Homo sapiens: one gene and its partner. The protein of the gene in region 1 interacts with the protein of each later gene in a biochemical or structural test. Each region holds a gene or a part of one and is shown in the gene's direction. Other genes may lie near its edges. The genes, in order: WRNIP1 and TOLLIP.

Region 1 (2,844 bases):
TAAAAAAAAAAATGAAAACCACTCACCTGGTTTGCCTCTCGTTTCACCTCATGAGAATTTCTTCTGTCTGTCGTAGGTGGTTATCCAGACTGTAGGCGCAAAAGGGGGATAATAAAAGCATGTGGGGATCTTCTCAGAATTACCTAGAGCTGTGTATCAGAAGGGGCTCTGCAGAACAGAAGCTTGGCATCTTGCTAGTAAAATGTGTCCTCTGTGTCATTGGTAGGTGCTTCTGGCCCAGTGTGTGGTCTACTTTGCCAGAGCCCCAAAGTCCATTGAGGTGTACAGCGCCTACAACAACGTCAAAGCCTGCCTGAGGAACCACCAGGGGCCACTGCCCCCCGTGCCCCTGCACCTGAGGAACGCGCCCACTAGGCTGATGAAGGATTTGGGCTATGGCAAAGGCTACAAGTACAACCCCATGTACAGCGAGCCTGTGGATCAGGAGTACCTGCCTGAAGAGTTGAGGGGGGTAGATTTCTTCAAGCAGAGGAGGTGCTGACTCCTCAGGGCACGACAGCAGAAGGATGTTGCTTTTTTAAGGGAGGGCCAGAAAGAAAGTTAGTGGATTGCAAAGTTGGTTGCCTGGTGGAAGTTAGAACAGACCAACATTTTGTGCCAGAAATTTAAGAGTTCCATAGGTGGAGGCGCAGTTCTTTCGAATAAATGTGTAACTTTGAAATTGTGTTCATTTGCACTCGGTGCAGCGGTTATGCTTATGAAAATACCTGGCAGCTTTGTGCAATGAATTAATGTTATAAGGAATTATCTATTTTGTCATAGTATTTAAGTCATAATGTCATTTCAGAATTCAGTTCTGTAGGATTTTCTTTTCTTTAAAAAATGTATATTCTGGGTAGTTTTAATTGGTAAAAAAATGTAATTGTGATTTAATACTGCATAGTGTTTTGGGTATTTTTTTTATATGCAAAGGTCTTACGAGCCAATAAAACTATTTCAAAGTACTCTTCGATTCTGTCATGGTTTTCCTGCCTGGATGCTAGGTACCAGCGTTGTCACCATTGCATTTGGTGGGTGGATACTGGGAAGGAGAAATCACCCCAGATGGGAAGAGTGGGGAGCTTAAGTTAAGAAGTCAGTGTTATCTTGTTGAAAGTTAACTCTGATCTCTTTAAAGGAATACATAAAGGAATTCTTTAAATGGCTTGTGGAAGACTCCAGTAGTCCCATGCCCATTTTTTCCCACTTGTCCTGGTTTCTTCTTGCAGCTCCATATTTCTAAACAGTCGTTTTTCTTTTACTTTATGTGTGTCCTGAACACAAAATACGCCACTCCTTCTGCTCAGTTAAGAGTTATTTGTCCCTACTGCTACTTCCTCTCCCTCTCCTTAGTTGCATGTCGTGCATATGCCCACAAGGATGGCCCCTTCAGGTAGTCGGTTCTCCTCCTGCTGTTGCGTGATCCCTCCTGGGGTCCTCCTGCCATGTCTGGAAGGCTGCCGGCTGTTGGCCTGGGACGTCCTCTGCCTTTATTCTGAGTGAGATGCCCATTTTCTGGATGCTCCATCCCGCCTTACTGGTTTATTCCGCTATTTCAGTGCAACCCATCCTCTAGTAGTTTTATCAGGCTGGAGGGACTGTATGTTGCAGAGGCTTGGCCCGACTGGCCTCCCTCCTTCTGTCTGGAGTGGTTGCACTGCAGTGTGCAGTTGCCATCCCCAGAATCTCCCTTCATCATCACCCTGGAGCTTTCCTCTGCTTCTCCCTGCACCCCATCTGATGACAGGACTGACTGCTTTCTGGCACAGGTGGCATGTACCCTCTAGTAGCTTTATGGAGCAGGGGTGTGTGGAGGAAAAGTATTTTTAGACCTCAGGAGACTCAAAATGCTTTTATTGTACCTTCAGACGTGTCTGAGGGTTTGGCTAGTAATAAATTGTAGGTAAGAAATTACTTGTGCATTGTTTTACACTTTCCCACATTGTTGTCAAGTTTGAAGGCATCCTGATGTGTGTGGTCTTTTGTTTGTAACCTCTATCAACTTGTAGACTCTTCTGTCTTTGCTCCCCGTGTTTTAAAAGTCTGCACTGGGTACTTGTTGGGCCTTTCAATCTGGAAACTCCTTTCAGTTCTAGGGAAGTTTCTTTTTTTATTCAATAAATTTATTTATTTATGAGACCAACTCTTGCTCTTTTTCCCAGGCTGGAGGGCAATGATGCGATCTCGGCTCACTGCAACCTCCACCTCCCAGGTTCAAGCGATTCTCCTGCCTCAGCCTCCCAAGTAGTTGGGATTACAGGCGCACACCACCACACAAGGCTAATTTTTGTATTTTTAGTAGAGACGGGGGTTTCACCATGTTGGTCAGGCTGGTCTCGAACTCCTGACCTCGGGTGATCCACCCACCTCAGCCTCCCAAAGTGCTGGGATGACAGGCGTGAGCCACCGCGCCCGGCCTCAATAAATATTGAGTGCCTGTTTTATGCTGAGCATTCTTGTTGATGTTAAAACACATCAGTGAGCAGAAGAGACCAAAAATTCTGTGTTCTTAAAGCCTATGGTATGAAAAATAATATGTTAATATGCCAAATAGTGATAAGTGCTATGCTAAGGAGAAAATGAATGAAAGATTGAATATGGAAAGGGGAGGTATGGGTGCAGTTTTAGTAGAGTAGCCAAGGTGGATCTCACCAAGAAAGTGTTTGAGTCAAGACTTCAAGGAAGTGAATGTGCCTTTCAGACACCCGGGAAAGGATCATCCCAGGCAGAGGGAAAAGCAAGTGCAAAGGCGCCGAGGGAGGATGGAAGGCTGGGTGGGTTCAGCATCCAGTAAGGAGACCAGTCTAGCCGGAGGGGAGGAAAGAGTGGTAGAAGTCGAGGCCG
Region 2 (3,814 bases), on another chromosome or scaffold:
TTGGCACCAGCCTGCTTCGCTGAGCATGACCCACCCCAGCCCCTCTGAATTAACCCATAGTGGGCCTTTACCCAGTTACTAGCACCTAGAGGAGCCCTGCTTTTGCAGGATGTCTTGACACAGTATTTATCATGTCCTCTTTCTGTTACACCTGTGGTGCCAGAGAGGCAGGAGGTTAAGCAGGGCGCTCGCTCAGCTTTCCAGCAGAAAGAGATGCTCCCCAGGGTCCGGGGGCAGGACTCTGGCTCGGGAGACCCTGACTGTGGTCTAGCCGTTGCCTCCCCCTAGTGATAAGGGGAGACGGCAAGATCCCATGGGCCGTGAAGGAGCAGAGGGGCCGCTAATGGGGTCCTGGGAGGGTTCTTTTGTCCTTGGGTAGAGGGAGCTTCAGGGGCCCGGGTGGGTAGGTGTGGAGAGGACGTGTGAAGCTAGCCAGCCCGACATCGTTCTGAGAGAATCATACCGTGTTTAGATCTTCAGGATAATGGTTCCCTGAATAGCCACTAAGGGATGCTTCAGCCCTGTGCAGTGCTTCCCTCACGTTTCAAAAAGGCCAGTATTTTGGAAAGATAACCTTTTTTCAATATAGTCTGCATATTATCAGAAAGCATGGGTGAGTACCTGCAAGGAGTACCATGTGGACCCCTGCGAGGGGTACCGTGGGGGCCCCTGCGAGGGGTACTGTGTGGACCCCTGTGAGGAGTATCATGGGGGCCCCTGCGAGGGGTACCGTGCGGGCCCCCGCGAGGAGTATCGAGGAGTACCGTGTGGACCCCTGCCTTCTGCAGTGAGATCTCGGGACGTTTGCGGGAGACTCCGCTGCAGCCACCGCGGTGCCGTCAGAGAGGCCTCCTTGGTAGAGGTGGGTGCGCTGTGCCGTGTCCAGGCTGCTCTGACTCCTTGTCCTGCTTCTGGAGGTGCTGGTTGGCCATGGAGTCCAGCTGGAGGCGGCCTGGCCCCTCCCTTCCTCCCTGAGAGGCCTGTTCCTGTCCAGGTCCCCTCACTCTTCACATCGTTGATAATTCCTGCCGAATCGGTGACTTCATTAGGGATGGCAGAGGGTAGTTTCTGAACTTTATCACTTCTTCGGTGTTTATTAACTGGGATTGTTTGTAAAGATTAGCTTTCCCCATCAACCGGTGTCGGCTGGCTGTCCTGAAACACAATTCGTGAAAGAAAGGCAAGTGAGATGCTTTTCCCTCATCTTCCCGTACCTCAAGGAGAGAGTTGCTTTTCTTTGTAGATGTGTGTGGGCTTTCTCTCCCCTGAGTGTTGTGAAGAGCCCGTGGATTTTCCTGCATCCTGTGTGTCTGAGCCAGTGGCACTTACCCGTCTCCGCTGGCTCTGGTGGGCTGCTCCTGGGAGGGCGTCCGTTCCTGCTGACTGCACCTGAGCCAGCGGGGAACGCACTCACCGCCTCCTCACGAGTCCTTTCTCTCTGGGTTCCTGTGAACCTTTGCGCTGGATTTTTTAGGCCGGGTTGTGAGTCTGTACAGGTGTGGAATTGCTGTGCTTGCCTGGAAATCACATCTTTTCACTGTGTGGGGACCCACGGGCCTCTTGGAAGATAAAGGCCTCTTGCCTTTGATTATTTTGTCTGATACTGGCATGGCCACCCCAGCTGTCTTTTAGAGAGTATTCACCTAGTACTTTTTCCTTCTATGATTTTACATTTTTCTGAAAACTTTTGTTTAAGACACGTGCACCATCGATAGCACGTAGCTGGATTTTTAAAAAGTCAAATCTAAGAAGACTAAGTCTTTTGATGGGAATGCGCTAGTTTCATCTTTCTAGTTAAGAGATGCCTAGATGGATACACAGATTTACAGATTTTTTACATGTTTTCTTTGGTGCTTTTATTTGTCCTACATTTTCTTATTTTTTTTCTCTCATTGCCTTTTGAATTTATTAAATGGAGTTTTAAAAAATTCAGTTGTTTTATCTCAAGTACATACACACTGTGCTGGGAAAGTACAGGGGCTCCCCTGGAAATGGTAACATGCACTTATCAGCTTCTGCCATGAGGGAGTCTCTGAGTGAACTCTGGCTCCGGAGGCTGCCCGGCTAAAGAATAAATAAAGAAGAAGTTAATCATTGTCTGTGCCACCTCCGGATCCACGCGGAGACCTCGGCCGCCCCGTCCTGGCGCGGGTGCTGCTGTGCCTTGTGTGGGTGCTACCTCCCCTTGGGGCTCCCGCAGGAATGTGTTACTTCTCTCGAGTCAGCGCTTGTTTAGATTTCCTTCTGTGTTTCTCTTTTCTTATCCCTTCTGGTGTCTCGGGCCTTCCATTTGGGGTCACTTTCCTTTAGCTTCAGGTTCATCTAGAATTTTCCTTGCTGGCAAACTTGATTTTTGCTTGTACATGCCTTTTCTCTGTGTCCTGACAGCTATTTTTGTGTGTGTGGAACTCCAGGTGGGCGGTACTCCAGGTGGACAGTACTCCCGGTGGACGGTCACTTGTCCTCAGTGCCTCGAAGGTGGGACCCCGCCCTCTCCTGGCTCCTGGAGTGGCTGCTGAGCAGCCCGGGAGTGGATGTCCCTTCCTCCGGCTTTCCTTCGTTTTTGGCCCTCTGTTTGCTGCCTTCTGAATACGCTGCTTCTGGCCTGCCTCCCAGTTCACTTGAGGTCTTTTTTTTTTTTTTTTTTTTTACATGGAGGCTCGCTCTGTAGCCCAGGCTGGAGTGCAGTGGCACAATCTCAACTCACTGCAACCTCTTCCTCCCAGGTTCAAGCGATTTTCCTGCCTCAGACTCCCGAGTAGCTGGGATTACAGGCGTCCACCACCACGCCCAGCTAATTTTTGTATTTTTAGTAGAGATGGGGTTTCACCATGTTGGCCAGGCTGTTCTCGAACTCCTGGTCTCAAGTGATCCGCCCACCTCAGCCTCCCAAAGTTTTGGGATTACAGGCGTGAGCCACTGCACCCGGCCCTAACCTCTGTTCATCTGGGCCTCTAACACTGTCCCTTGACCTGCCCGACAGGCCCCTGGTTAGGCCTGCTGTGCAAGTGTTTCCTGTCCCTGAGTCACTGTCTCCAGATCCTGCGGGCCCTGCCCTGGCACCGTGCTGGTGAGGCCTGCCTTGCTGCCCTGTGGGAAGTGCAGCGTGCCCCTGCCACCCGGCCTTGCCCTGTTTCTTTGCACAGCGCCTCCTGCCGTTAGCATACAGCATAACTCATGATGCTTCCCGTTTGTCTTCTTCCACTCACGTGTAAGCATCCCAGGAGCAGGGGTGCCCCAGCACCTCACCATGGAAGCCTCAGGCACACAGTGACACGCAGAGGCTGCCGCAGCGCGCGCCCTGTGCCCGGCGCCCAGGGCCTGCCACGTCACATGCCGTCCCTCTCTGGATCTCTGTCCGCCCTTGGCCTGCTGCTTGACTGGCTTTTGTTTCATCTGAATGAGAAGGGGTTTTCCGCCTCTGCCTTGCTTGACCGTCCCAGCACTTAGGATGCAAGGCTGCCTGCAGTGGAGTTCCTGGCAGAGACCCCATTTAAAGTCGCTTGTTCTGTAGTCAGCTTTTATAATCTATGCTTATTCTCATTCTGTCCTGTACTCTTCCCTTTCACCGCTCTTCAGCTTACACGGGTTCGTTTCAATACTGTCATCTCCCAGCTTCCCTTACACAAATTCTAGTGTTTGCTTTGAGACTTTAGCAGAGCCAGGGAACCTCCCGGCATGTTGGCTTTGAAGCGCCTGTTGTGTTTTGTATAATTAAAGGAAGAGGGGAGGGGGTGATAGGAAGAGGGAAGGAAAGCCCTGTCTGAGGAAGGCCCCGGAAGGGGAGACAAGGCACGGCGAATGAGTGCTCAGC

Evidence for each region.
Region 2: the proteins of WRNIP1 (region 1) and TOLLIP form a complex in vitro, tested with the Homo sapiens proteins (one study listed by BioGRID).

The regions. Positions count from the first base shown.
Region 1 is NC_000006.12:2,784,781-2,787,624, forward strand, and holds the end of WRNIP1 (ATPase WRNIP1), read left to right. Parts: intron 1-226; coding exon 227-502; 3' UTR 503-2,172; downstream 2,173-2,844. UniProt on the Homo sapiens protein: Functions as a modulator of initiation or reinitiation events during DNA polymerase delta-mediated DNA synthesis. In the presence of ATP, stimulation of DNA polymerase delta-mediated DNA synthesis is decreased.
Region 2 is NC_000011.10:1,302,871-1,306,684, reverse strand, and holds part of TOLLIP (toll-interacting protein), read left to right. Parts: intron 1-3,814. UniProt on the Homo sapiens protein: Component of the signaling pathway of IL-1 and Toll-like receptors. Inhibits cell activation by microbial products. Recruits IRAK1 to the IL-1 receptor complex. Inhibits IRAK1 phosphorylation and kinase activity.